3 linked regions of the Homo sapiens genome follow. The protein of the gene in region 1 purifies or fractionates together with the protein of each later gene. This does not show direct contact. Each region holds a gene or a part of one and is shown in the gene's direction. Other genes may lie near its edges. The genes, in order: XRN2, KPNA6 and KPNA1.

Region 1 (11,686 bases):
TGGCTTCTTTCACTTAACCTAATGTTTTTGAGCTTCATCCATGATGTAGTATGTACATGATGGGCTTTTAAATTGCTTACAGTTTTTGCTGTTACAAGTGATGCTTTATATGTGCTTGAGGAACTGTTATTTTTTTAAGTGACTTTTATTGTTAATAGTAAAAATTAGATCTCATAGTCTTAATCTCTTGCTGAGGCTCTGGAAGAGAAAAACAAAGGAAGTAACATTTACAAAAACATAATTGAGTATCTCTGGCAGTGAGTAAGCCCTTATCTTTTGAGGAACTCAATGTAGCTGGGGTAGATTGACTAACTGTAAAACAGTGGAAGTGCTACAAGTGAATAAGCAAAATTATGAGGAAATTCAGAAGGAACAATTTCTTGGGAGATATGTACAAGGTGTTATAAAGTGAGTGACATTTGATTTGAGTGTAGACCCTGGAAATTAGTAATTTTTCAGGAAGTGGGTGTTGACAAGGGAGGAAGAAGGTGTTCTGAAAGAAGCATCATGTGACGGCATTGAGAGATCAAAAGGCATTTTCCAGGAACTTACAAGAGAGTGAGTGGGCTTCAACAATAGTATGGCAGGATAGGAGACTAGGAAGGCTCCAGGCTCATTGATAAACACCTGCTGTGAGAATCATTAGAAAAATTAGGTAAGATTAAGGACGTACACTTTTATGTTTTAGAAAGAGAACTCTGACAATGCAGAAAGTGAGCTGGAGACCAGAGAGTCTAGAGGTGGGGTAGACTAGATGAAGGTTGTTGTGCTCTTTTAGGTTAGAGATGGTAACTTCTTGTTGTTCATGGTGGTGGGAATGAAAGGAGATGAAGTAGGTAAGCATTTTTTACGTTACTTTGACAGGACTTACTGATGTGAGTGGTGAGGGAAATGAATTTTAAGATGACTCCCATGATTTCTCACTTGAACAACCTGAATGATTTGTGAATTTTCTAAACATCTACATTGTCAAAAATAACTTGTGTTAGAAGCCATCCACTTTCTACAGATAAAATATCTGCTTCAGTTTGCTTTAAGGAATAAAATAACTTATTATAATTTAAAGGTTACTTGAAGTGTTTTATTTCCAGTTCAGAAATGAAACACAAGTTCATATTGAGCCTAGGATCTGTCATTTTTAGACTTGAACAATCAAACTACTATTAATTATCACTTCCTCATAGCCAAAAGAATGCAATGGTGTAAAGATTCCAGTTGATGCCAGTAAACCTAATCCAAATGATGTGGAGTTTGATAATCTGTATTTGGATATGAATGGAATCATCCATCCCTGTACTCATCCTGAAGACAAGTACGTAACCCATTTTTGTCACTGATATAGCAAATCACAGAGGAAACATTATATTATATTACATTGTTTGGTTGTCATTATAGACCAGCACCAAAAAATGAAGATGAAATGATGGTTGCAATTTTTGAGTACATTGACAGACTTTTCAGTATTGTAAGACCAAGAAGACTTCTCTACATGGCAATAGATGGAGTGGTAAGTGCTAAAATAATTAGAAGCCTCCATTTTGTTTTTTTTTGCTGTGTTACCAGTGTCTAGAATGAAAGTCAGCTAAATAATGAAAAATGTTGACAGTGATGAACTTGAGAAAGAAAGCCTCATCCTTCAGTCATTCATTCAGATGTTTTTTTGTGTGTGTGTTTTGTGCTTATTTTGTGCTCAGTACTGTGAAATACTGGGGATGTTGGCGACTGCCCTTGCTTTTGAACTTTTGGCTTACTGTCAAAGGGAAGGAGGCATAGATAAATGGGTGAGCTTAATTATTTATAGGCATTATAAGCACTAGATAATACATGCAGGGTGTTGAGGGAAGAGGAAGTCAGTGCTACTAAGGAAGTTAGGATATAGAGAAGAGGTGACTTTTGTTCCATTTCTTTAACAATGAAGAATAATTGGGAGATTGGTGGGTGGTGGTGGGAGATGGATGGGACAGGGTTTGGGGAGGGAGGACCTTCCAGATTTCTCAAATGTGGCAGGTAAACACACTTTCCGTGCCTTTGACCACACTGACATGTTTTGGCAACTACAGGTGGTTTGAATTGAGAAGGGAAGTATAGCAAAAGCTTGAGAAAGCCTTACCGTCTGGAGTTTGGACTGTATCCTATAGGCAATGAGTAGTCATGAAAATGATTTGAGAGGAGTAAGTTACTGACCTATGATAATAATACCAAGTAGCTCCTTTTATAAATGACCAGCAAACTCTATTAGGGGGGTAAGGTAAGATATAACTCTAAATTTATTTAGCTATCTGCAAGTAGATTCTTTTAATTTTAGTGCATCCTAGCGGCTAATGGGATGATTTTGGAAATTCAGAGAACTTTGAATCCAAGAAGATTAACTTTTCTGTGAGATTCGTCTTACTCAGTGAAAAACCTTAGCTACCTGATAACTTGCTAAGTTGCAGTTAGAATGGAGTAAAGAGTAAAAAGAAAAGGAATATGTCTTGTTTAGAGCACATTTCAGTTTATATTCAGCTAATTTTTTTTGAAGAAATCTTTAGCTTTACTCCAGTGTGTTCTTTCTGCTACATCAAGTATAAAATATGTACACATTTATATGCATGTGTGTGTACATGTTTATACACACATTTTTTTGTTTATATATAAATGTAGATACAGAACTTTGTACTTGAGAGGGCTTCATTAGATGGTCTCATTCTACAGAAAAGGGAATTGTTTAAAGAGAATATTAAATAACTTACATTTAGATGTAAACAGGATATTTCACAGTTTCTTCCCACCCCAAAACTCAGTTCAGTAACTTCGAAAATCTTACAATCTAGTTCACTTTATTTGGGCTTTTCCACTGAAATTGCATTTGGTTAGAGTGATTTAAAAGTACTTCTGGTTAAGGCATTATTTCTTTCTAACTGCTATGCCTTATTGAAAAGACAGAAAAATTATAAACCTTATTGTGGGAAATAGAAGTGCACCGAGATTCTTCACATAAAGAAATAGTTTTCTGTTGCTTTTATGAGACATTGTGGATCCCATTTGGACACCATTCTTCCTTTTAGGTGTGGACATAGAGAATGTCTTCCTGATCTTAGTTCAGTAGTAACTGCTCATCAGATGTTGGCTGGGTCTTTTGAGTAAAGTGAGCTTTCTTTCTTGGGTGCCCTGAATCAAGCACCCTAACCGAGGGGAACTGGTGTTAGACTGGGAGGGCTTGAAGTATAAGTGCTAGGGCTTCATAGGATGTTTGTCCATTTGACGTGGCACTCATTCACCTGATTGAGCTCAGCTTTTGGGTTCTCGGTCCAAATTTAAGTTCTCAGCATCTGGTATCTGTCATGAAAGGATTATTAGACACATTACTTACCTTTCTTCCATTTTAGTGTACTGCTTTTATAAGAACAACTGATTCAAAATAAGGTACAGATTTATTTGTGAATATTTTGATGAGTGTTATGGAATATGAAATACATTTTCAGGCACCACGTGCTAAAATGAACCAGCAGCGTTCAAGGAGGTTCAGGGCATCAAAAGAAGGAATGGAAGCAGCAGTCGAGAAGCAGCGAGTCAGGGAAGAAATATTGGCAAAAGGTAAAGAATATGCATCTTGAAGTTGGATTTTTTCATAAGATGTATGCAGAATGAGGGGGTGGTGGCAACTTTTTCTTACAAAGAGGCAAGCTTTTAATTTAATAAGGATCCCAGAATATCCAGTGTTCACTGTTGAGGAAAAGTAGTTCATGAAATCTACCAATAGGCTTAATAGGCTTGTTTATTTTCAAACTCTCCAGTAAGAGGGAGCCTTGGGAATAGGGAATTCTGGTGGAGATTGCAGATTGTCAACTCCTCTCAGGGCCAGTGCAGCTCTTTAACAAACTTTTATGTCTCTGTAGAATAGAAATATAGTAAGTATTTTTTACTACTTTTCTCTGTGGCGGCTGTCAGAAAGCTATAGTGCTGTAAACATTTTCCTCAAATCAGCTTTGGTTTGCTTGCTTTTTGAAACTCAGAGGTCTATCTGAGGAAGCCGGAGGTGATTCGATCCACATTTACAGGCTGTTGCCAAGTCATTTGCATACTTTCAATATAGGTTGATGGAGCAGGCACAGTACTTATGGTTCCTTCAAGTTTGGAGGGGTTAGGGTGGGATGTCTTCATTTTTGCAGTTCCCCAAAGCCTTAAAATTCCTGGTGGCTACATGGGTAGGAACTGACTAAGCCTCAGAGAAAAGGAAGATCAGGGAGTGTTGATGCCAGTTGGGACTGGTTCTCTCCTACCACACCTGTGTGTGAGGTAGGGTATGGTTGTAGCAGGTTTGTTTGGTGTTCTGCTACTTAAGGGGGTATAATAGACCAGAAAAGCCACAGTGTCTTGGCTCCGGATAATTGCACTCTGCAGTTGAAAAAGGATGCCATAGTATAGCCAGCTCAGGCCTGCAATTACAATAAATTTTATATTACTTGAATTTTGCTGGAAGTGTACAAGTATATAGTTCCTTTAGCTGCAACTTGTAATTAAGACTCTAAAACCTGTTTGTATTTATAACAATGTTTCTGATTTTAAGAATGTCTTTTTTTTGAAGATGTGATGAAATATACTTGTTTCTTGAGAAGCAGCTAATAGTGATAGAGAGGAAAAAATAGGATTTTTATATTCCTCTACCTGATAATTGTATTTCTTATCCTGTAAAGCTGTGATGAACTCGGCATTTTAAATTTCATTTTTCTTAGGCACCTTTATTTTAGGAACTGTTATCAAAAAATATGGCCTCTAACTGGTGTGTGTGTGTGTGTGTGTGTGTGTGTGTGTGTGTGTGTGTATTCTCTTACAGAGTGAAGAACTTCATAATTTTTATGTAACAATATAATATCTTTTGTGTACCATATATTGTTTTACAGTCTTATTAAAACATAATTTAAAAGGCTGAGCACGATGGCTCACCCCTGTAATCCCAGCATTTTGGGAGGCCGAGGACGGCAGATGACTGGAGGTCAGGAGTTCAAGACCAGCCTGGCCAACACAATGAAACTGCGTCTCTACTAAAAATACAAAAATTAGCCAGGCGTGGTGGCAGGCGCCTGTAATCCCAGCTTCTCAGGAGGCTGAGACAGGAGAATCGCTTGAACCCCGGAAGGCGGAGGTTGCAGTGAGCCGAGATTGCACCACTGCACTCCAGCCTGGGTGACAGAATGAGACTCTGTCTCAAATAATAATAATAATAATAATTTAAATTTGAGAGATGGAATCTTATTTTCTTCCCAGTGAGGGAACATTTTTCCTCGGATGACGAGACTTCACTTTCTTTTGTAGTGGAACTTTTTGTTTTTGTTGTTCTGGCTTAATGTTGAGTAATTTATCTCACTTTTTATGGGGAGAACAAAACGTTGCCTCTTTTCTCTAGGTGGCTTTCTTCCTCCAGAAGAAATAAAAGAAAGATTTGACAGCAACTGTATTACACCAGTAAGTAGTCTCATACTTTGCTAGCTATTGCTAACTCTTAAATGATAGGTTAATTTATTTCTTTCTATCATTTTAGGGAACTGAATTCATGGACAATCTTGCTAAATGCCTTCGCTATTACATAGCTGATCGTTTAAATAATGACCCTGGGTGGAAAAATTTGACAGTAAGTTTCACATTTTGATACTTCAGAAAGATTAGGGTGATCATTCGAGGCTGTACTTTGATATGACTGACATTATTTATCCTTCTGCCCTGCCCCATAAAATGCTAGTTGACTGTTGGAAGAAAGAAAAGCTTCCAGGGTTTTTGGAGATGGGGTATCCTTGCATGGTTAGGTTTTAGATAGCTGAATTTTCTCTTAAAGCCAATTTTGTCCTCTTACCATCACTATGAAGCTATAAAATGGGATTCATAATTTAAAAAATATATATAGGAAAGTAATTTTTAAATGGAAATTTCCATTATTACATATCAATATACAGCAAAATTAGTAAGTTGTGGGGCTGTCTTAAATGGCTGTGTTCCCAAATATTTAAATAATATGTAAATGAACTTGTTTGTAATTTTAGGTTCATAAGCTGGCTTCCCTATTAATGAGAAATGGTAAATTATATTTTATAGATATGTGTTATTGATTATTCTTGGGGCATATATGGTTCAGCACTATATCCTTGCATAGTAGTGAAAATAGGAGCTTGTGAATGATCAGTTTTTCTGATGGCTAGGTCTGACCCAGACATTTCATTCCTTTCCATTACATGTAGTAAGTCAATCAATGAAGTGGTTTTGGTGTCTCTCACACACACACACCCCTTCTTTATTCAGAAAATTTTCAGTGAAGTAGTTTTGGTGTTTTTCACACACACACACACACACACACACACACACACACACACCCTTATTCAGAAAATTTTCCCGTAACACTTATCTCAGTTTTTCTTGAGACATATAATTCTTTTGATTTTTGTGCCTATAGAAAATTGGGGATAATCTGAAAGTGTTAACAATTTTTTTATAGGTTATTTTATCTGATGCTAGTGCTCCTGGTGAAGGAGAACATAAAATCATGGATTACATTAGAAGGCAAAGAGGTAAAGCTTACTTACCAATATTTGATTATATGTTCTATTTTTAAAAAGCCATTGCATAGAAAATACTTGGTATGAAGTGATATTCTTGTGGTATATAATATATTAATATAAATACATGTTTCTCTCTTGTTTAGCCCAGCCTAACCATGACCCAAATACTCATCATTGTTTATGTGGAGCAGATGGTAAGTTTCTTCTTTGGGATTTGCTTCTTTTGGATTAAACCATAGCAAGTTGATGGGTTGGTGTGCAGTAATGGATTATTCATGGTTACCTGGAAGTTCCAAAATGCCTTGGTTATTTTATGTTCGACAGGGAACTAGTATTGAGTTGCTGTTTAATCTGTGGTCAATGATCTTTAATTTCTTTTCTTCTTTCTTACATTTTTCAACCTTTTAACTCCCCATACCTTTAAAATGGAGAATTTCCCAAGTGTTTAATCCTTAGTGGCAGTCTATGTTGTAGGTCCACGTATCTAGAGGACTTCCTGTTAACTGGGAAATGCCAGGAAGTGTCAAGCTTTGGGGCTTTGCTGCTCATTTGGGTGCTCATTTGGGCTTTTCTTTGTGTTGGCATCTCATAGTAGTTTATGGTAAGACTTCTCTCAGAATACTCACTGTTCGATGTTTTTCTCATTGTTGATTGATAGCTGATCTCATTATGCTTGGCCTTGCCACACATGAACCGAACTTTACCATTATTAGAGAAGAATTCAAACCAAACAAGCCCAAACCATGTGGTCTTTGTAATCAGTTTGGACATGAGGTCAAAGATTGTGAAGGTTTGCCAAGAGAAAAGAAGGGAAAGGTAAGAACTTTGAGATGGTAGTTGCCTCATTAAAAAAAAAAATCTATTGTGGTAAAATGTATATGACATAAAATATCATTTCAACCATTTTAAAGTATACAATTAAATAGCATTAAATATTTGAGTTACCTTGTTTTTAAAATGGATGAAGAGAAGATTGTGGTTGATTAGTTCTTTATGTGCTTGTTCTGTTACCGTTACCCTTCACAGAGATGTATCTTTTTTCTTTTTTTTTTCTTTTGAGACAGTCTCGACAGAGACGAATCTTTTAAAGTACTTTAAAATAAACCTGCATTCAAAAACATGCACACACTCATCCTTTCTACTTAGCACTTTTTCTGATATTGCCTATATCTACACGAGGCTTAGTTCCCATAGATAATAATGCCCATAGCTTGTAATTTGTTTGTGGAAGTTATTTGTTTGAAATACTCTTCTTAAAAGGAACTACAACTTCTTAAGACTTTTAAGTTACTCCCACTTTTTATGTATTTTAGGTTCACTTGGTTATGTCCAGTCCCCTTTAAAGGGGCTTCTGTTTCAATAATATGGTGCCTCTTGAGTCATATGCTTTTTGAGGGGGGAAAAAGAATATGGTGCCTCTTTCAAAGACATCGTTAAGTGAAAAAAGAGATAAATATAGTGTATTATTTCAGATATGTAATACAATAAAGACAGTATACATGTATCTATGCACATCTGTTCACAAGGAAGGGGTAATCATTGGTTGGGTATAGGTCATCAGTTGGCAAACTTCAATCCTCCAGGTTTGGCCTGTGAGCTATGTTTTTTACATTTTTAAAGTGTTGTTAAAAACAAAATAAAACATGAAAGACTATTAAACAGAGATCATATATGTCCCCCAGTAGCCAAAATAATTTACTGTCTGGCCCTTTGCAGAAAATGTTTGCTGACCCCTGATCTAGACGTGGTTGATTTTATGGGTAATTTTTATTTTAAAATGCATTGGTGAGCTTTTAAAAATTAAATACTTGTGATATTAAAATGGATTGTGCGTTAGAAAAAGCCTTAAAATTTGCTTGGTTGGAAAAAATTACTGGACGTAGAGTAGACTTGTTTCATCTTCATTCCTGTTCTTGCAGCATGATGAACTTGCCGATAGTCTTCCTTGTGCAGAAGGAGAGTTTATCTTCCTTCGGCTTAATGTTCTTCGTGAGGTATGTAGCAATAATCATTGAAATCAGCACTCTAAAGCAGGGTGCCTTTGATAGCTGTAATGGCAGCATTCCTTTTTGGTTGTAGTATTTGGAAAGAGAACTCACAATGGCCAGCCTACCATTCACATTTGATGTTGAGAGGAGCATTGATGACTGGGTTTTCATGTGCTTCTTTGTGGGAAATGACTTCCTCCCTCATTTGCCATCGTTAGAGATTAGGTATGTGCATTTGTGTAGCTTTTCAAACGACTGTTTTAGGCTTCTTGACTTTACTGTGCCTACTGGTCCTAATGCATAATGTTTGTCTCTTGCTGACAGGGAAAATGCAATTGACCGTTTGGTTAACATATACAAAAATGTGGTACACAAAACTGGGGTAAGTTCATTCTTGAATGATTTCAAAACAGAAGTATTTGCTTTTATAAGAAGATCATTTTACATATATTTTATCACTTACAGGGTTACCTTACAGAAAGTGGTTATGTCAATCTGCAAAGAGTACAGATGATCATGTTAGCAGTTGGTGAAGTTGAGGATAGCATTTTTAAAAAGAGAAAGGATGATGAGGTAAAGTGTTTCTATTGCAGTAGCTAAAATTGCTCCTGTCTCTAATAGGCTATGATGATCCTGTGATTACTTTTAATCTCTTTGAGTGTGTTTTTATATCATTATGGTGTGTCAACACTAATGTAATCATGAGTGGTCAGTGCTTTGATTATTTTATAAAGGTTGTGCTGCTTGCTCTGTGGAACTATGTATTGTACCCTGTTTGAGTTGCATTGTAATGTTTTTTCTGTCTTCATAATCTGAATATAAATCCAAACACATTTCTAATCAATAGGATTTGAAATGCGGGTACCAAGGCTGGAAGTCTATTGGGATTGAACTAGTGGCTGTCATGTTTTGAAGGCAGGAAGACAGGTTAAGAAGAATTGACAATGTAGGGAGTGTGGGTTGGATTATATCAGCCAGGGCAGAGGGTTGGGAGAATGTAGGATCTGTGGAGAGCTGAATCTCTTAAAAAATTGAAACACAAGAAGGAAATAAAATAGCAAAGCATTTGAAAATTGATTGCATATTATGGATGAGCGCTTACATGAAAAGTCCAGGTTCTGGCTTGGGCAGTTAGGAATTTGCTGGTGCCATTTACTAAGATAGCAAGCACTAGGGGTGGAATGGGTTGGGGTGGGGACAAAGTAAAAACTGAGTTTCATTTTGGAGATGTTTAATGTGAGGGGGCTGTAGGACACCTGAGAGGAGAAAAGTCCATTAAGCAGTTGAATGTGTATAAAGCTCAGGGCAGAAGTCTTTTGAAGAGATTTGAGAACCATTAACTAATGGAAGATACTTGAAACTATGAGTGTACTATGAGTGTGACCCTGGGAGCTTGTGTGGAGTAAAAGTACCTTTAATAGAAGCCTAGGGAACCACGGACATTTAAAGAGAAAGAGGAGCCAGTTATAGAGAGGTAGAAGGAAATTCCTGAAGAGATGGGAAGCCATGCTCAAGGGGTCACAGTGAGATGGACAGGCACTTCGTCCGTGGACAGGGTTTGGGATCCACTGGTGAGCTGATAGGAGTGGAGGAGCAGCAGCCTGGAGGCAGAGTGATTGGAGGGTGATTGCAGGGTGTAGCAAGGGAGGCCAGCAGTGGGCAAAATAAGCAGGTAATAGCTTCTTAGAAACAGCAAGGAAATCCTTTCAGAAACTGATTTTATAAAAGTCATGTGGCTATTTTAAGCAGATAACAACATATATTACTGCTACATTGCTTCATGATCTCCCAGCACATTAAAATGTGTCATTGAATCTTATTTTCTGTTTTCATCAACTTTGTATACTGTAGCTAGTGATCTCTTATTTTTAAAACTTTGGGTGTCATTTTATGTAACATAGTGGGTTGACTGTAAGCATTCTTTCCAAAAGCCTTCAGTACTTGGTAATGTTTTTATGTGATGTCAAGAGTTTTTTGCATATAGAATTCAAATTACAGAACTAGCTTTGTCTGGAAGATCAGATGTCAATTGGAACATTTTTAACTACTTTTTCAACAATTATGGTGGCATCCCTTGATCTGCTGCTACATACTTTGTACCACTTGGTTTAAAAACCTTGAGTTACAGTAGCTTCTACTGTCTCTTTAGCCGACTCTGCACCTTGAGTTGGCATTAGAGGAGGAAGTATGGGATTTGGTAGACACCATAGTGTTACAGATTTAATTAATACGATTTTTCAGCTGACCTGGCAGGAGAGGGCATTTTAAAGCTTTGGATCTTTGTTGGTGTTCCTGAAGTCATGCCATGTCCTTCAGCATGATTGGACACCAGGGGAAACCCTCAAAAACGCAATAGGAAAGTTTCCAGATATATGTATTTTTCTGGGAAGTATGTCCCTGGCATTTGACAGATTTCCAAAGGAGTTCATAGCACAAAAAAGGGAGAGATCCATAAGGTCCACCCAGGTGGTCTTCTGTTTGTGCGTGACTACCACCCTTAGAGATAGGCATTTAACAGACCAGCAGAACAAATGATAGAAAAGGAATACATTAATATTTGTTATTGGCTAAGCGTGGTGGCTCATGCCTTTAATCCCAGCACTTTGGGAGGCTAAGGTGGGCAGATCACCTGAGGTTAGGAGCTTGAGACCAGCCTGGCCAACTTGGTGAAACCCCATCTCTACTAAAAATACAAAAATTTAAGCTGGGCGTGGTGGTGGGCGCCTATAATCCCAGCCGCTTGGGAGGCTGAGGCAGGAGAATTGCTTGAACCCAAGAGGTGGAGGCTGCAGTGAGCTGGGATCATGCTACTGCACTCCAGCCAGGGCGACAGAGCAAGTCTCTTGTCTCCAAAGAAAAAAAAATTGTTATTGAAGTTGAGCATTTAGGCAAGAAATGTGTTGCTTTTTATTGTATGAGCTTTCATGTTTACCTTTTAACTTGGGAATGTTGTTCATTTATTAAGCAAATATTTAAGTATTTACCATGTGCCAGACAGTGTTCTGAGTGCTAGTGATACAGCAAAAAACAAAAAAGGAGACAGAAATCCCTGCCCTCATGGAGTTTACATTCTCTTGGGAGAGCTGGAAGATAAACACAGTAACTAAGTAAACCTCATTAAGTGTTAGAGAATAAGTGCCACAAAGAAAACTAAAGCAGGTGAGGAGG
Region 2 (7,694 bases), on another chromosome or scaffold:
CGCCCAGGCTGGAGTGCAGTGGCGTAATCTCGGCTCACTGCAAGCTCTGCCTCCTAGGTTCACACCATTCTCCTGCCTCAGCCTCCCGAGTAGCTGGGACTACAGGTGCCCGCCACCACACCTGGCCAATTTTTTTTTTTTTTTTGTATTTTTTTTTAGTAGAGACGGGGTTTCACCATGTTAGCCAGGATGGTCGCGATCTCTTGACATTGTGATCCGCCCACCTCAGCCTCCCAAAGTGCTGGGATCACAGGTGTGAACCACCGCGCTCGGCCTCACAATTCTTAAAAATAAAAAAATAAATTAGTAAGAGTGGGTTGCTGAGAGTTCAGAGCACCTGCCCAGCACTTCATGTGTCCTGTACTAGTTTAGCACTTGCCTGGTCTCTGGCCCCTAGGTACCTGGTCTCACTGGGCTGCATCAAACCCCTATGTGACTTGCTGACTGTAATGGATTCGAAGATTGTGCAAGTGGCCCTCAATGGACTGGAGAACATCCTGCGGCTTGGAGAGCAAGAGGGCAAGCGCAGTGGCTCAGGGGTCAATCCTTATTGTGGCCTCATAGAGGAAGCCTATGGTATGTGCCCTCTCCTCAATCTAGGTCAGAACCTGAGACTGTAGGCCTCCAACGTGGTATACATATGTTGGTGGTGGCGGAGTGTGGGTTGGGAAGCATCCATAGCTTCCATGAGACTGATGTCTGTGTCTTCAGAACAGTTAAGAGCTCCTGCCCTAGCCAAGTTTCACCATCCACAGGGTTTCACACGTTACCATGAGTATAATCAGGATGTGCTGAGTAGCTGGGGTACAGCTAGGATTTGGATTTGGCTCATCTTTTGAGTTGAGAGTTGTCTCTCACCAGTTTCTTCTCCTTCTAAGGAGTGATAGGTCAGTTCTCTTTCTGATAGGCTGTACCTATAAGAGTGCTGGATTAACTCATCACTCATCCCTGAGAGGCTGATGATGTGCCCAGGTCATGCTTCTAGTTTAAAGCAGAATCAGGACTAGAACCTCTGTAACTGACATTTTGGTCTCTTTCCTTTGGGATTCTGTAGTTTTGAGAAGAAATCTTAACTCTCCCCTTTCAGGTCCAAGAGTGATCTGATCATATGACTTGTGTTTGTAAGCACTAACATACCTCAGGGAAGGAAAAATAGGTAAATGTTTCACCTGCCCATAGAAAAGCACTCACACTTCCCTCTCCTTCCTTCTTACTACTGTAGGCTTGGATAAAATTGAGTTTCTCCAGAGCCACGAGAACCAGGAGATCTACCAGAAGGCCTTCGACCTCATTGAGCACTACTTTGGTGTAGAAGACGATGATAGCAGCCTGGCTCCCCAAGTCGATGAAACGCAACAGCAGTTCATCTTCCAGCAGCCTGAGGCCCCCATGGAGGGCTTCCAGCTATAATATCTGCCTCCAGGGAGGGGAGGGGATGGGAAGCACCACCAGCCAGCGGAAGAGCAGCCCTCTGGTGGGCGGGAAACCAGTGTCCCCACCATCAGCCACCACACACCTCTGCTGCCCTGGAGACTGTGCTCTTGACCTGCTCCGCCCCCTTCCCTGGAGGGAGCACCCTCTGGACAGACAGAACCATCTGAGGCTCACCTTTGGGTTTTGTGACAAGAAGGGGACGTGTTGGGTTTTTCTTCCTTACACTATATTTTGGCTGCACACATGTCTTTAACCCAGGAGCCCAGGGGTAGACAAAGGAGGACTAAGGTAATCAATTTGCACCTTTTTTTATTTTTATTTTTTTTCTTTTTTTCTTCAGTGGTGACTTCCTTCCCTTTATCTTTTTTCATTCTTCCCGGTCCTCTGCCCTGATCTGTGTAACTCTTATCTTGGGTACTTGAGCAGACGGTATATTCCAGAGGTGGGAGGTGGGAGGGGAAGGGAGAAATCCAAAACAAAGTGTTCTTGCTCTGACAGAATATTAATCTTGTACGCTTGGATTGAGTTATTTAATTTTTTTTTCTTTTGCACATTTTTCTTGTATTAAGATTGCTCTTCCCAAGAGCCACAAGTTCCTGGTTTTAGTAAACCCAGCTGCCTGCATTGCCTGGGACTAGAGGCTGGGGAGGCTACCATGAAACAAAGGTCCCTCCCTCCCTCTGACTCTTTGCCCAGACCTCTTTAGTTTGGGGGATCCTCCTCACTCTCCTGAAGTGTCTCAAGTATACCAGTGGGAGTGCAGGGGAGGAGCACAGGCCTTCAGATGGGGCTTCCCACGTGTAGCTACTGATCCCATATTTCCTACTCACCTTCCAAATGGTGCGACCCAACTTCATTTGTTTACTTGAAAATTCCCCCTCGAGGTTGAGAGAACCTCTGAGGTGGCTGTATTTTCTCCTAAGCTTGAGATAGGGGGCTGTGGTCCTTCCTTTCTCCTGAGGAGAAAGTCCTTGCTCTGGTGACCTGTAAGTTGCAGAGGAGGGTGGAGTGAGAGTGTCATGTATTGGGATAGTCAGGGATCCCTGCCTTTGGCCTTTCTTCTTCTTCTTCTTCCTCTTCCATAGTTGGATCATGTATATTTTACTTCTAAAGGAGAGAATGTCAAAAAGTTCTGTATTTTTTTATATTCTATATATTAGGTAGGTCAATCTTAATTGGTCTCAAGAGGAAGAACTGTCTGTCATTTCGGTAAGTAGGATACTGTGAGGAAGACCAAAAAGAGATATGGATGCTTCCTCGCTCAGGAGGCCTGAGCTTGGTCCTTTTCCTCTCTGCTTGGATTCTGGACCACCACCTGGGACCAACCTTCAGCTCTGGAACCTTCATAAAGCAGGTCAGCGTGGCCTGATTGTCCCAGGACCTGAAGGGAGCAAGGATGGCCTCAGGGCCTGGTGAAGTCTGCTACTCTGTCCTTACTGCTGAACATCCTGCTTGTATCAGGAAACTCAGAAGCAGTTTGCCTTGTCAAATTCAATCTCAATGGCCATTGTCCACATAACTGATCACCCATGGCTGCCTCTCCTATTATCTATTATCACTGAAACTTAGTAGCCTGCTTTTTTTTTTTTTTTTTTTAGAGCTATTGCGTATCTTCCCTGTTTGGGATCCTTGTACCTGGTTTGGGTTTTCCCTTCCTTGTGACAATTATAATCCAGATGCCTCTTCTTTCTGTTTGAATTACGGTAGTGCATTGCCTTAGTGGCTTGCCTGTGCCTCTGGGTGGATTACATATGATAGTAAAGCCCACCTGTTTGGATGGGAGTAGAGGAAGTTGGTGTAGACCAGCTGTGGAGCTGAAGGCACAGTCTGCCCCACCCCCACCTCCCCACTGTGGTTAGTCAGAGGCATCCTGCTCCAAGCTCTGCTTTTCCTTCCTCTGAAACAATGCCATTCTTGCTTCTATTGCTACACATCTCCTTCTGGCTCAGGTGAAATCCATGCCCTTCTGCTTATAGACCTAAAGTTCAGGTACTTATTATTGGCCATTGATCTTGAATTTGCCCTCTCCTAGTGCTGCAGTCCCACTTCAAAGCCATTTTCTGAGGAGGATGGTTTAGGTCTGGCAATTGTCCTTGAAAAATCCCACCCATGTTGTACCACCTTGGTGAGTCATATGCCACTCATCAGCTTGGGAATGATGGCTGCCAACTCCCAATCTCCCAGGAAGGCAGGGGGCAGAATCTTTTTTTCACTTGGCCTGCTACCTCCATTAAAAAACCATTCTCTTACAGTTTAAAAAAAAAAAAAAAAAAAAAGCCTTCCCCTACCCAACCTCCGCCCATTGTTCTCTTCCAAAGGGCAATTTAGTAGGATCTACTTTGTACATCTCAAGTAAGAGTTAAGTCCCTGATACAGGGACCAGTTTCTTAGTGTAAGACATACACATCCTGCTTGTCCAGCTGTTCCTCCAAAATCTACTTTGGCTTCAGCTCCGGGTCCTGTACCAGATGGAAAATGTTTTTGGTGATCTGGCTGCTGCTTAAAGCCAGTTTTCCCTAAGAACTCCAAAGGCTAAAGTCTACTAGGGGCAGAGTGTGAGGATAGATTTCTAATCAGAGAAAAGTGGCCTCCAGGAGCTTTCATTTATGTCTTCTCCAGACCAGGTTTTCCTGTTATCTTCCTTTAATCCCCTTTCAACCAACAGGTGAAGTTCTTCCAGCCCACAGAGGTAGTAATATCATCTTTTCTATCTCCTCCTCTCCTTTGGCCATGTAATGAAGCAAAATATTATTTATTTAGCCCAGGCTTGAGAGCCACTGTTTGTGGACAGTCTTCATCTAGATTCCATACCCTGGCCTAGGCGAGGTAAGGCTCTCTGGTTATTGCCAGGATGGAGCCCCTCTACCCCAGTCTGCTGTAGGGAATACCCTAATTAGTTGAGGCATGCTTTTGGAATCCTGGCATGTTGGCATATGGCTGGTCTATCCTTTTTAAGATCTCTGGTTGGGGGTATCTGGATATGGATTAGGAGGGACAAGGAGCCTTTTTCTTGGCTAATGTTTTCCAATACTTTTTTGAATGGTGCCAGCCCCTCCAGGCATCCCACCCCCAAATCATCATCTTTAGTACTAACAGGGTGTCTGGTCTTAGAAGCCTCCCTTCAGATCCCAGCTGACCCTGGTGACTGCCTGGCCTTGATGTTGGCTGCAGCCTTCTGATAGAACCACATGGATTCCACCCACAGCTGGCCAGGCTTGTTACATGGGTCAGGGAATACAAATGGCCCCCCCCCAGGGAGCAGGTGTTGGCCTCAGTTTTCAGGGACCCTTGGTGTTGCTCCTTACCTAGAGCCCATTAATCTACCCCATCAACTCTCTGCCATGAAAGCCATCTTCCAGGAGCCCTGTTTTTTGGAGCTGAACTGCACAGATTATAGCTGCTATTGTACTTAAATAAGGGAGAGGAAAAGAAGGTTCTCAGGCACAGACTTTCTATTTTTCTCAAGCCAAACCAGTTTAAAATGTCTAGCAGAATGAACTGTATTTCCATTTCTTCATGTCTACCTGCCTTCCCCCCACACCCTAAAGTTGTACTTGTTTCTAGCAAACTAGAAGGAAAAGATAGGAAAGCCTGGCACTACTAACCTCACCTCTCATACACCTCTTTGAAGGCCCCAGCTCTTTTGTTCAGGCCTCTCTTCTCCCCTAGACTCACTCAGCTTGGTATCCATCATCTTGAGCATTCTTCAGTAGATTCATCTAGGGTTCAGATTCCAGACTCTCAGCTGAAGACAGGGAGCCAATTTCCCCCAGGTCCCTGCAGGTAATCCAGGGACCCCATAGGGAGAACAGGCTGACTGGGGCATTAGGAATGTTTGTACCTCTCTGCTTCCCTGGCAGCCTGGGGAAGGGTGCAGGGCTCAGTGCGCTAAACCATGGTAAACATCTTCAATAGAACTACCCTAGAATTTAGTGAGTGTGAGACTGAGATATTGCTCAGAATAAATTTATTCCATAGCCATTTAGGATTGCATGTTCTGGACCAACCTTGTCCAGTATGTTTTCTGTTTGAGCTTTTTCATTCTTTTGTTAAGCCAACAAGTTGAGAATTTGGCCCTGCTGGGATCCATGTAGTGGGCACTAGCTGCTCTTTGGCCAAGGCCTTCATAAATGATTCAGTCTCTCATTATCTGTCCTCTAGCCCCACACCCTGATTTAGACCGTGGCAAAGGAAGAACTTGAGGTCAAGACCAACCAAATCTGTGAATTAAAGCTGTTATTTTTTTCTCTGCAAGGGCGCTTTGCTTCAGGTCTGGGCTATGTGCAGAACCTAAGCAGGCTGTGAGAGTTAGAAGAGGCAGTATTACATGTTAGGCCCAGAACACCATGGGAAAAGGTTTATGTAGTGTATCTTAGTGGCCTGCCTAGCTGCCTCTGGGCCAGGCTGACTTCTGATGTCCACATTAGCTCGTACCTGAACCCTGTTGCTGAATGCCAGCCCTGTTCTCCTGTAACTATTATATACGCCATGGCCTGGGGGGCATTGAAGGAAGTAAGCTCTCAGAGATCCTAACACTGGCTGGGAACCTCTGACTCAGAGCATGTCTTTAAAGAGTCCACATCTGGCCAGGCGCGGTGGCACATGCCTGTAATCCCAGCACTTTGGGAGGCCGAGGCGGGTGGATCACGAGGTCAGGAGTTTGAGACCAGCCTGGCAACATAGTGAAACCCCATCTCTAATAAAAATACAAAAAATTAGCTGGGCGTGGTGGCAGGCGCCTGTAATCCCAGCTACTTGGGAGGCTGAGACAGGAGAATCACTTGAACCCAGGAGGCGGAGGTTGCAGTGAGCCAAGATCATGCCACTGCACTCCAGCTTGGGTGACAGTGCGAGACTCCATCTCAAAAAAAAAAAAAAAAAAAAAATCCACATCTTCAGCTGGGCGCGGTGGCTCATGCCTGTAATCCTAGCACTTTGGGAGGCTGAGGCGGGCAGATCACTTGAGGTTAGGGGTTCAAAACCAGCCTGACCAACATAGTAAAACCCCGTCCCTACAAAAATAAAAAAATAAAAAAAATAAGCCAGGTGTGGTGGTGGGCACCTGTGATCTCAGCTACGTGGGAGGCTGAGGCAGGAGAATCTCTTGAACCTAGGAGGCAGAGGTTGCAGTGAGCCAAGATTGTGCCAGCCTGGGCGACAGGGTGAGGCTCTTGTCTCAAAAAAAAAAGTCCACATCTTCATGAACCCTCAGACTCTGGAGTTGGGTGTCGGCTTTTTTAGCCAGCTTTTGTGGGAATTGCCTTTGACCTATTAAAGAAGGAAAGTGGGTAATGGAGTCCCAGCCACTCAAGAGACTGGATATCCCCCGAGAATGGCTTGGGTTACCAGCTATGGACCCTTGGAAGATGAATCTAATCCTTCTCACTGGTTTTTCTTTGCAAATTCATTTGCTTTTATTTTTCTAATAACAATAAACTCTATTTTCCATGTTCTCAGGGCCCCTGGGTAGACAGACACAGCTTGATTTCAGAGCAGACATAGGCGAAGAAAACATGGCATTGAGTGTGCTGAGTCCAGACAAATGTTATTTATATACACATCCAAATTTGAAGAGAAAATGTATTTCTTTAGGTTTCAAACACTGTAATAGATATAAAGCAAAAATAAAAACCTGTTGCAAAGTTCTAAATTGTCTTCTTTGGCTTGGAGTGACCCTAGACTGGATTTGGGGGAAGAGAATGAGGAGGTGTTTAAATTTGTAGCTTAACAGTGGAAATAAGAGTTGTACCAACCTGCACCTGCTCTAAAGTTTTTTTCATCGACTTTATTGAAATATAATTGACATACAATAAACTGTACATATTTAAAGTATATACACGTTGATAAATTGAAACACATATGCACCCATAAAACAACCACAAGATAGTGAATATATCTATGACCTTCATAAGCCGTAAGCTTCCCGCTTGAGAATCCCTCCTTTCTGCCCCACCTCCAGCAACCACTGATCTGTGGCTGTCACTGTAGTTTAGTTTGCATTTTCTAGAGTTTCTCTAAATGATTTTGACTTAGTTTCATCAGCACCACTCTACAGCCCTTTGAACCTTTTTTTTTTTTTTGAAACGGAGTTTTTTATTCTTGGCATCCAGGCTGGAGTACAATGGCGTGATCTCGGTTCACTGCAACCTCTGCCTCCTGGGTTCAAGCGATTCTCCTGCCTCAGCCTCCCAAATAGCTGGGATTACAGGTGCCCGCCACCACGCCCAGCTAATTTTTGTATTTTTAGTAGAGACGGGGTT
Region 3 (11,224 bases), on another chromosome or scaffold:
ACTGAATGTAGGCATTCATCAGATGCTAGTTTTGAGTGTTCTGTTTGGAATTAAAAAATAAAAATAGTAACAAAGTACAGAAATTTATCAGGTAGAGAAAATAAGAAATATGTACCTGAAAGAATAAAATTACAAACAGATTAACATATGCAGTAGCTATTTTGGTGAAGTTCATCATGGGCAGGTTATTTCAGGGAGACAGAAGCACATTTGTCTTGTAGGTTTTTTCCAACCTCCAAAATTCTGATTCTAGAGTACTATGATTTTAATTATGCTGTCACCAGATGGTAAAAATAATGAAGTACTATAGTTATTTGAATAAGCTTTATGTTCAAATTCACATTTATAGTTATTAATTGTCTCTATATTTTATAGCAAATATATTTTCTTAATTGAAATAAGCCAGGCCGGGTGCAGCGGCTCATGTCTGTAATCCCACCACTTTGGGAGGCCAAGGCAGGTGGATCACAAGGTCAGGAGTTCGAGACCAGCCTGGCCAACAGGGTGAAACCCCGTGTCTACTAAAAGTACAAAAATTAGCCAGGTGTGGTGGCGTGCACCCGTAATCCCAGCTACTTGTGGGGCTGAGACTGGAGAATCGCTTGAACCCGGGAGGCAGAGGTTGCAGTGAGCTGAGATCATGCCACTGCACTCCAGCCTGGGTGACAGAGTGAGACTCCATTTCAACAAAAAAAAAAAAAGAAGAAGAAGAAATAAACCATAAACATATATATTTTATTATGCCATCTTTCATGAGAAAGTATTCAGGAGTATTTTGCTCTGTTAGAGAAGCGCAGAATTGCTGCTGTCCCTTTTTAAAATTCAGCATAGCTATTTATAATAAAATTAATTACCAACCTCCTAGCAGTTTCTTCTTCCCCACATGAAGAGTTATCTTGAAAGAATGTCACAAAAATATTACAGTCCAAATTACAAAAAACAAACTGACTTTATCACTTATAAAAGACATCTATCTGGCTTCTGCTGCTTCTTGTTGCAGATACCAGATTTGGATGCAAGAAACAATTAGAATATTTTAGGAAATATCTTGGCCGGGTGTGGTGGCTCATGTCTGTAATTCCAGCACTTTGGGAGGACAAGGCAAGCAAATCACTTGAGGTCAGGAGTTCGAGACCAGCCTAGCTAACATGGAGAAACCTTGTCTCTACAAAAATTAGCTGGGCGTGTTGGTGTTCTCCTGTAGTTCCAGCTACTTGGGAGGCTGAGGTGGGAAAATGGCTTGAACCCAGGAGGCAGAGGTTGGTTGCAGTGAGACAAGATCGTGCCACTGCACTCCACCCTCGGAGACAGAGTGAGAGACTCTGTCTCAAAAGATAAAAAAGAATGTTTTAGGAAACATCTAGAATTTTAGGTTGAATATAATCAAATGTTAATACATATATAACACATGTTCTTAATGAAGGATAAGGATTATTAACTGAAATTAGAGAAACATTCATCAAAGAAGTGAAACTTACTATTTGTATAGAGAATTGGCAGTTTTGGAGGGGAGAATAGCATGAGGAAAAGTGAGAGAATGCAGTGTTTTTGGAGGTGGCAGGTCAGTCTTGCTATAGGTCGTTCTTTCACAAGGATGATTAAGTAATCGACTGGTGAATACTGGGATGAAAGCCTCAGTCTTGGGTATTGGGAAGACTTGGCCTGTCTAAGCTCACGAGTGACACAAAGTAAGGCCTGTGTCTAGGTTCATTATTTTTCTGTATGGATGTTCAGTTGTTTTAGCACTGTTGAAAAGGTGGAATCCTTTCTCCATTTAATTGCCTTTGCTATTCTGTTAAAGATCAGTTGACTGTTTTTGTGCGGGTGTGTTTCTGGGCTTTCTATTCTTTTTGTGTGGGTCTGTGCATGAATTTGCAGTTTATCTGAGAAACCAAACACACAAACACACAGTTTATCTGAGAAACCACACACACACACACACACACAGTTTATTTGAGAAACCACACACACACACACACACACACACACACTGGTAGTACAGTATAGGAAGTCCTCACTTAATGTCATTGATAGGTTCCAGGAAACTTTGACTTTAAGAGAAACATTGTATATATCAAAACCAATTTTATCATAGGCTAATTAATATAAATCAGTTGAGTTACTACGTGATATTTCTGGTCAAGGAAACATCCCCAACCTTCAAAATATAGACCCAAAAACCTTCTAATATTAAACATTGAAACAGATGTCAGCTATACATAAATGTAAGAAAGATTAATAAAAACAAGTATGATAATATCCAATTTTTGGTGAATCCGTGAATGATGGCAGTAGTAGTGGTGGTGGGTTAAATCAAAGAATACAGATTTACAAAACAAAAGTTATGAGCATCTCCTACCATCCTGCCACCACACAATTAAAAAAGCAACAATAACATATAAAAAAGGATTCCCAGCACTGAAGAATTTAATGAATGAAATAAAAATACAGTTGAGATATTCAGCAGTGGATCAGATCAAGCAGAAGAAAGAATTACTAAACTTAAAGATAGGTCTTTTGAAATAACTCAGTCAGACATACATGAATGAATGAATGAATGAAAAAAATAATTAAAAAAGAAAGCCTAAATGGCATCTAGGATACCATCAGGGGAACAAACATTCAAGTATTGTGAATGTCTGGGCCCTCTATTTTGTTCCACTGGTTTTTTGTTTGTTCTTTCACCAATACCACACTGTCTTGATTAGATTATAGTAAGTTGATAATGTCATTCCTCCAACTTTGTTCTTCAGTATTGTATTGACTATTCTGGGCCTTTTGCCTTCCCATATAAACTTTAGAATCAGTTTGTTGGTATCTATTAACATGCTGGGATTTTGTTTGGGAGTATCACATTGAATCTATAGATCAAGTTGGGAAGAATTGCCATCTTAACAATATTGAGTCTTGTCCATGAGCATGGAATATTTCTCCATTTTTTTTTTTAGATCATCAGTTTTGTAGTTTTCCTCATATATATCCTGTTGTACATATTTATTAGATTTACACTTTTTTGATGCTGATGTAAATGAGATTCTTTTTTTTTTTTTTTTTTTTTTTGAGACAGAGTTTCGCTCTTTCGCCCAGGCTGGAGTGCAGTGGCACGGTCTCGGCTCCTGCAACCTCCGCCTCCTGTGTTCAAGCAATTCTGCCTCAGCCTCCCAAGTAGCTGGGAATACAGGTGCCCGCTGCCATGTCTGGCTAATTTTTGTATTTTTAGTAGAAACGGAGTTTCACCATGTGGGCCAGGCTAGTCTTGAACTCCTGACCTCAGGTGATCCACCCGCGTTGGCCTCCCGAAGAGTTGGGATTACAGGCTTGAGCCACCATGCCTGGCCTGTTTGCTGAGTTTTTATCATGAATAGGTATTAGATTTTGTTAAATGCTTTTTTGCATCCGTTGAAATGATCGTAAGTTGATTACATTGATTCATTTTTTTAAAATGACGGATCAGCCTGGCATATTTGGAATAAATCCACTTGGTATATAATTCTTTGTATACATTCTTGGATTTGATTTGATAATGTTTTGTTGAGGATTTTTGTATTCATGTTCATGAGACATATTAGTCTGTAATTTTCCTTTCTTATGATGTCTTTATTTAATTTTGGTATTGGGGAAGTGCTGGCCTCAAAGATTGAGTTAAGAAGTATCCCCACTGTTTGTTTTCTGGAAGAGATGGTAGAATACTAGTATCGTTTTGTCCGTAAATGTTTGCCAGAATTCACCAGTGTGAAACCCTCATCCTGATGTTTTCTATTCTGGGAAGTTATTAATGATTCAATTTATTTAATACATGTAAGCCTGTTCACATCAGTCATTTCTCCATGACTGAGTTTTGGTGGTTTGTGTCTTTCAAGAAATTGTTCATTTTATCATCTGAATGATCAAATGTGTGAGCATAGAGTTGTTTGTAGTATTCCTTTATTATCCTTTTAATATCCATGAGATCAAGTGATGATTCTCTTTCATGATATTAGTAATTTTGTCTTTTCTCCTTTTTTCTTGTTTGGCTAGAGATTTATTTTTATATATTTTTGAATTCTTCCTCCCCCACACAAAAAAGCAATATGTGAGAAAGAAATAGATTAGCACTAGCAGTAAGTTTCAAAATGACCTTACCAAACATTCACATAATGCAACTGGATTCATTATCCCTGCCTCTCTGTACTCAACTTGAGAAACCAGAATGATAAAAAATGACATGACTATTTACTGTGAATGTGATACAGTAATCATGTCTCTGAAGTTCAAGTATGATTAATCTTGATTACATACGGTTATACATTCTGCTTGAATTAAAGGAAAAATACCAGTTCTAGAATCCTCTGACATTTGTTTATTCTTCCCACAACTTACTTTACTAAAATTCTAATCATCTTTGAAAGATTTGGCTTATCAGGCTTGTGCTGGCTTTTAGCACCAAGAGTGTCATGTTTGAGAGGTGTGGCTATCTATGGAAACAAAGATGAAATTACTCAAACCTATACTATTTTGATGAGTCGCTCATTTCAAGGTATTAATAAGTAAGTATTCCTGTTTTTGGAATGCATAAATTGTGAAGAGAAAAGAATGGAGAAAGGTGCCAGAGAACTGGTTTGGGATAATTTATTTAGAGGGTTTTTTGTTTTTGTTTTGTGAAAAGGTATAGCTTGTATGGTTGAAAGAGTGCTTGTTTTTTGTTTTTTTTTTTAAGTCTCTGCAGTGAAGTTGAGGATGACTTGCTCACTAATTTCATAAGTTTAACAAAATTAAAAGTTTTGTTTGACTACATTATTCTTTGTATTTAGGTACCTAGTAGAACTGGGTTGTATCAAGCCGCTCTGTGATCTCCTCACGGTCATGGACTCTAAGATTGTACAGGTTGCCCTAAATGGCTTGGAAAATATCCTGAGGCTTGGAGAACAGGAAGCCAAAAGGAATGGCACTGGCATTAACCCTTACTGTGCTTTGATTGAAGAAGCTTATGGTAAGATGCTTTGGTTGAAGAAGTTTATGGCCAAGAATGAATTGGGTCATAGATAGAGTTCAGTAAAAACAATACTACTACTGCTAGGCACTGGATGAAAAGAGGACTGTTAGGAAATTGCTGCTTCTGCAGACTGGATATTACTTGCATATGTATTTAAGATGTCAGTTTATAATACTAGCTTTCAGATGTAATCCCAGCAGTCATTTCTGTGCTATTATAAAATACTTATGAGATACAAATAATCTTTCTTTACATCAAGAACAGAGATATATGACAAAATATAGTTTAGGAATATATAGTTATGGAATTTCCAATATTTATTGAAGTTTTCAATAAAGATTTTCCTTTATTCTTCATTTTAGGTCTGGATAAAATTGAGTTCTTACAGAGTCATGAAAACCAGGAGATCTACCAAAAGGCCTTTGATCTTATTGAGCATTACTTCGGGACCGAAGATGAAGACAGCAGCATTGCACCCCAGGTTGACCTTAACCAGCAGCAGTACATCTTCCAACAGTGTGAGGCTCCTATGGAAGGTTTCCAGCTTTGAAGCAATACTCTGCTTTCACGTACCTGTGTCAGACCAGGCTACCCAGTCGAGTCCTCTTGTGGAGCCCACAGTCCTCATGGAGCTAACTTCTCAAATGTTTTCCATAATACTGTTTGCGCTCATTTGCTTGCCTTGCGCACCTGCTCTCTTACACACATCTGGAAAACCTCCGGCTCTCTGTGGTGGAATACCCTTCTAATAAAAGGGTAACCAGAACGGCCCACTCTCTTTTACGGAAAAATCCCTAGGCTTTGGAGATCCGCACTTACATTAGAGTTATGGGAATATACACATATTAATGTGGCTCCCTTTTTCTTGTGGGGGAATAAAAGAGGACTCCTCCTCATTCCCTTTAACATGGGGGAAAAAACTGACATTAAAAGATGAGACTAAATCTTTATCTTGAATTTTACACAACTACTTACGACAAGGGAGATGTTTAGACCTGTTGTGTATACTTCAGAGTACTTTTCATGAGTTCTTCCACAGTGAACCCTTGGATTACCTGGTGGCTTTTTCTAGCCAGATTTGCATTAATCCTTACTGAGATTGGATGGTTTTCTTTCCTCTATTGGCGCCATTCTTCAGATATTAAAGTTAAACCATCCACTCCCTCACCTTCAGCCTTCAGTGAATGTGCTTTCTAGTTGTCAGGAATGCTGAAGAATTAACACTTTGACTCCTAAATGTGATACTGGTTTGTAGATTCCCTTAGAGCAGAAAGGAGAGGGGCACATATTAATTTGTATCGCTTTTGCTTCTCTTTGGTCTTTTGTGTCTTAGAATTTGGAAGTGGTTCATTTCTGTTGCTGGTATGAGGATTTCGAATACTTAGTAATCGAAAACCATATCCTGTAATTTAATAAAAAAAACTAAGGACGAAAAAACCCTCCAATTTTCCCAAATGCAATCAGTGTAACTAGGGGCTGTGTTTCTGCATTAAAATAAATGTTTCAGGCTTTGTGGTCCTGATCAAGGTCCTCATTAAAAAATTGGAGTTCACCCTAGGTGCTTTTCCCCTCTGTGACTGGCAGATAACACATACTTTTGAAAGTAACTTTGGGATTTTTTTCTTAGGTGCAGCTCGATTCTAATCTTTTCATGCTGCACACGATTCCTTTAATGTAGCATCCTTATCTGAAAGAAATAACCATCTTCTCAACATGACCTGCTTAACCCAAATAAGAACAGTGATCTTATAACCTCATTGTTTCCTAATCATTTTATTTCATCTCCTGCTAGTACTGTGCCGCTTCCCCCTCCCCCCACACAAAATAAAAACAGTATCTGCCTTCTGGCTCATTTAATGATGACTGCAATCTGTACCTGCAAATGGCGCTTCCAGTACTGTGTTCAGTGATCCACATTTGTGCTTGGACTGGAATGAAAAAATACGCTTAATTGCCAAGACAACTGCAAATGAGTTCAATACGACTTCTCGGTGCTAGTTGGCCATCTTGACTCAATGTTGGGATACACTACCAGAGAAGATTTTTTTGTTGATGTGCTGTTCAAAGTGAATTCTGAAGGAAAAGGTTGCTCACCTCTGTTTCAGAGCATACCCTTTTAAACCTTTTTAGACTTGTCCTCTTCTAGAATTCATTATAACCCCAAAGTGTAAAAACTATTTGGAAGTTGCCCCTGACAAGCTATTATACATCTCTGGTAAATCCTGCTGAATGTAAGGGATATTCAGAGCTTTTCATACCTCATCATGATGTTATTTAAGCAGCCAACTTATGTGACCTGATTTAAACTTTTAAAAAATCCACTTCATTCAAACTAGAAAGAGTCAAAGACAAAGGACATTTATCAGCCAAGAGTGTGACGCATTCTTCGCATCTAGTCTGTAGTAGTGTCTGTGCTCTGGGATGGATACCGTCTGATGTCTGTTTGTTATTGATGGCGCAGCCACTGCAAAACTAGTCAACTCCCATCTATAACTGTTACTTTTTCTAGTGCTGCTTTGTGCTGAGAGAACATTTTAGTTTACTGCACTTGACCTGTAAAAGACTGATTCTTTGTAATTTTAGGGATAAATTAGGTGGTTAATTTAAAGAAGAAATTTCAATGTTGCCTTTACATCACATTAAAATATAACTTCTTTCAGAAGGATAATAGAAGCACTGATTCATAGTAAAAATCTTGTTTTTAGCTTTGACTTTTTTGTGGCTGTTTTTTAAAATTGTAAATTACTAGTAACATGTCATTTCTATAGGATGTTTTAAATTATGTACCTTCCATTGGATAGTTAAAATAATTTCATTTTATAAGCCAATTTGAGTGGGAAAGATACAAAGCACACAGTTGTCTCCCCACATTAGGAAGAGTAGTGTGCATTCAGACATTCGGAATTTTTGCTAGTAGTTGGAGATGTTTCAGTGAGTGAATTAAAACAAAGTCTATTTAACTGACGTGATCTATTTTGTGTCTAAAACAGAGGAATTTATCTTGTCCTAGAAGTTCATGAACTATAAGATCTAAGTTTTTTTTTCTTTTTTAACAATAAAATGATTTTTTCTTAAAGTATCAAAGTTGGAATTGGCTAAAAGTGAAGTAGCATAACTCAGATATGTTGGAACTTGGTACTGAAGCAGGCTTTTTGGTAACAGAAATGACATTTTAAGGGGTAACTGTATATCCTGTTTTTAGTTCTTTGCCTCTCAGATTCTGTTAACTTAGTTTAAATTCACTGAATACCCTACCACTAAGGCGTTGCTCATTACAAAAGCATGTTAATTTCAATACAGGAAAACTCTTTTGTAGTTTTATATATGGATTGGGGAAAGTGACTTTGTTTTACTTTTCCTTTTTATTCCCCTCCATCCTCCAAACTTCCAATCTATATTATTTGTAATGAGAACTTTGGTGGGGGAAAAAAAGCATTAAGAGAATTTTGGATGTAAAGGCATCTGGTATCTGATGGACCAGCAGGTAGATGTGGTTGGATTGAGAAATTTTGGGTAAGGTAGATGATAGAAGAAAGAGATTTTAGGAGACACAGTTCTCTGTGGAACACTTTCTTTCATGTTCCTGTAACTAATTGATCAAGACCCTTTTAAACGCTTATCTTTGTCAGTTCCGCTTTTGAAAAAACTATTGCCCTAGGATTGTTTCTTCCATATGACAGATGAAGGTTATTGGCTCTGAGTCATTTTTGGCATTATCGTCACAGATAAAAAGATTGGCAATTAATCTCATAAAAAATCTGAATTATTCCAGATTGCTGCCGATTTTTGCCTAAGAAACAATATGTAAGTATATTTTATAAACCAAACTTTGTCAACCAATTCTATTGTACGTCTACCCACAGGCAACTTTGAATTTACTTCTCTAGTGCTAAATAAACATTTCAGCGATTTAATCCCCCAACTTGGGGGATGCATTATGAAAAGGTTTTCCTGGAGTCAAGGGGTTTTTCTTTCTCGCTAGTTTTGTGAAAATTTTTATATCAATAGGCAAATCATTATAACTTTTTAGGGGTTGATGGTTTTTAAGTATATTGGAAATTGTGGTGTCTAAGGATGATGTTCAGTGAAGAAAAGGGATCCACTTTTAGAAACCAGCATTGTTTGCTTTCAACTTTCATACTGTATGCTAACTCCTACGTTCCAAAATGTGCTCATTTGCAGACACAGGTATGCCTATATACATGGAAGTCTCAAATCTGAATTTTTATCCATCTCAATATGACCATTTCTCTCTGTTGTGAGCTGAACAGATTAAGTATATATCTGCCAGGTTGGGAAATATTTTGGTCTATCTTTTCCTGTCATCAGAACTTAATTTAAAAAAATTATCAAAGGTCAGATGTGACTACTACAGTAAGTTGGCTATCATAAAGAATATTCCATAAAATGTTTTATCTGCCATACAAAATTACTGGGTTTATGGCCGGATGTGGTGGCTCATGCCTGTAATCCCAGCAGTTCAGGATTACAGGTTATATACAGGTTATAACAATGGATACCAGGACATCAGAATATCTGATAAAGCAAATATTTATATGCTAATTTAAAATATCAAATTGCTACTGGACATAAAATACATCTGGAAGCTTGGGGTAAGAAGAAAGAAAAGAAGTGTTCCGTTCTGTTTTCAACTAAGGGTAAACGAAGTCCCAGAGTGTTTTCCCTGTAGGTCAAATTAAGGTAACATGTCTTTATTTGATCATCTATTGTACACCAGATACCTGGCTAAGGGCTTTCCTTTTTTCTCATGTAGTCTTCCAAATGTTCTTTGATAATTGTCACTATATTATAGATGACAAAGTGAAGACTTACGAGAAATTACTTTGCCCCAAGGTTACAACACTTAGATGGCTGTCCAAGGGCGGGGAAGAGCCCTGCAAATTCTGTGTCTTGAAGAAAGCAGTGGCCACGCAGTAGTTCCGTGCCCAGGATCTCCCAGAACTAGACTTGGCAACCACAGCTGGGCCAGCCTTTTTTGTTAGACCATTCTTCCTGACTCCTGCTTACCATCAGCACCCTTAAAATGACGAAATCAGGCTTAAGTTGCTTTTAGGTTACACAGACTGGAGTGTAGGCCCTCTCAGGCCAAACATCTTTCCTCTTCTGTGGTGCTAAAATTCTGTATGACCAGACAAGTATGGTAATAGGTTTTTTTTTTTTTTTTTTTTGTGCAAATGATTTTGTGTTTAGTAAAATAATGGCTAAACACATGGATCCATTCAAACGCACAAATGTGGAAAGTATTGACACGGAAGGAAAGGCTTTGAAGAATTACTGCCTCAGGAAGCAGTGCCATGGATGCGAATTTAACACAGTCTACTTCTTCCTAAAGGAATATCATCCCAAGGAATGTCAAAAATTAAAATCACCTTTTAATGTACTGGTTGTTGAGTGTTTCTGCTTTACCTCAAGTCATTCTGACCACTCTACATCCTGCTTCAAAGTGTTCTGACACTTAGATTTGGAATGGCTCTAATGATTCTTTGTACTTGAATGTGGTCTGTCAGGCCATGGGTGAGTGCCTTGCACATAGTAGACATTCAATAAATACTAAATGAAGGAATATGCATGCATCTTTGTGATGTTAGTAAAGGGTGCTTGATAAAAGAAAATTCAAAGGAATTCCCTTATGCTGTTACTTGAAACCAGGATCAACATCTTAAGCAAATGTCTCAACGTGTTTTATATGCAGTTACTTTTCAGAAGACATGATTTGACCTGAAGTTTACAAAATCAAACATTGTCATAGCAGAGGTCTGGTATTTAAAAACAAACAAAGTGTCTTAGAAAAGCTAGTGGCCGGGTGCGGTGGCTCATGCCTGTAATCCCAGCACTTTGGGAGGCCGAGGCAGGTGGATCACGAGGTCAGGAGATCGAGACCATCCTGGCTAATATGGTGAAACCTCGTCTCTACTAAAAGTACAAAAAACTAGCCGGGTGTGGTGGCGGGCGCCTGTAGTCCCAGCTACTTGGGAGGCTGAGGCAGGAGAATGGTGTGAACCCAGGAGGCAGAGCTTGCAGTGGGTGGAGATTGCGCCACTGCACTCCAGCCTGGGTGACAGTGCAAGACTCCATCTCAAAAAAAAAAAAAAAAAAAAAAGCTGATGGGTATATTTTACAGTAAAGAAAAAAATTTATTAATATCCAACCGACGTGGAAGCTGCTGGTTGCCTTAGGCTATTACACAGGGATTTTTCCTTTTTACATATTGTATGTATTGCATAAGTGACA

What was found.
Region 2: the proteins of XRN2 (region 1) and KPNA6 purify together in Homo sapiens (affinity purification with mass spectrometry; 2 studies listed by BioGRID and IntAct, with this or other methods). This does not show direct contact.
Region 3: the proteins of XRN2 (region 1) and KPNA1 purify together in Homo sapiens (affinity purification with mass spectrometry; 4 studies listed by BioGRID and IntAct, with this or other methods). This does not show direct contact.

Annotation. Positions count from the first base shown.
Region 1 is NC_000020.11:21,325,095-21,336,780, forward strand, and holds part of XRN2 (5'-3' exoribonuclease 2), read left to right. Parts: intron 1-1,184; coding exon 1,185-1,312; intron 1,313-1,395; coding exon 1,396-1,507; intron 1,508-3,464; coding exon 3,465-3,576; intron 3,577-5,386; coding exon 5,387-5,445; intron 5,446-5,521; coding exon 5,522-5,611; intron 5,612-6,466; coding exon 6,467-6,539; intron 6,540-6,673; coding exon 6,674-6,724; intron 6,725-7,188; coding exon 7,189-7,346; intron 7,347-8,449; coding exon 8,450-8,524; intron 8,525-8,609; coding exon 8,610-8,743; intron 8,744-8,842; coding exon 8,843-8,900; intron 8,901-8,983; coding exon 8,984-9,091; intron 9,092-11,686. UniProt on the Homo sapiens protein: Possesses 5'->3' exoribonuclease activity. May promote the termination of transcription by RNA polymerase II.
Region 2 is NC_000001.11:32,169,485-32,177,178, forward strand, and holds the end of KPNA6 (importin subunit alpha-7), read left to right. Parts: intron 1-397; coding exon 398-576; intron 577-1,222; coding exon 1,223-1,410; 3' UTR 1,411-7,079; downstream 7,080-7,694. UniProt on the Homo sapiens protein: Functions in nuclear protein import as an adapter protein for nuclear receptor KPNB1. Binds specifically and directly to substrates containing either a simple or bipartite NLS motif.
Region 3 is NC_000003.12:122,421,283-122,432,506, reverse strand, and holds the end of KPNA1 (importin subunit alpha-5), read left to right. Parts: exon of another isoform or gene 1-40; intron 41-4,790; coding exon 4,791-4,969; intron 4,970-5,334; coding exon 5,335-5,522; 3' UTR 5,523-10,605; downstream 10,606-11,224. UniProt on the Homo sapiens protein: Functions in nuclear protein import as an adapter protein for nuclear receptor KPNB1. Binds specifically and directly to substrates containing either a simple or bipartite NLS motif.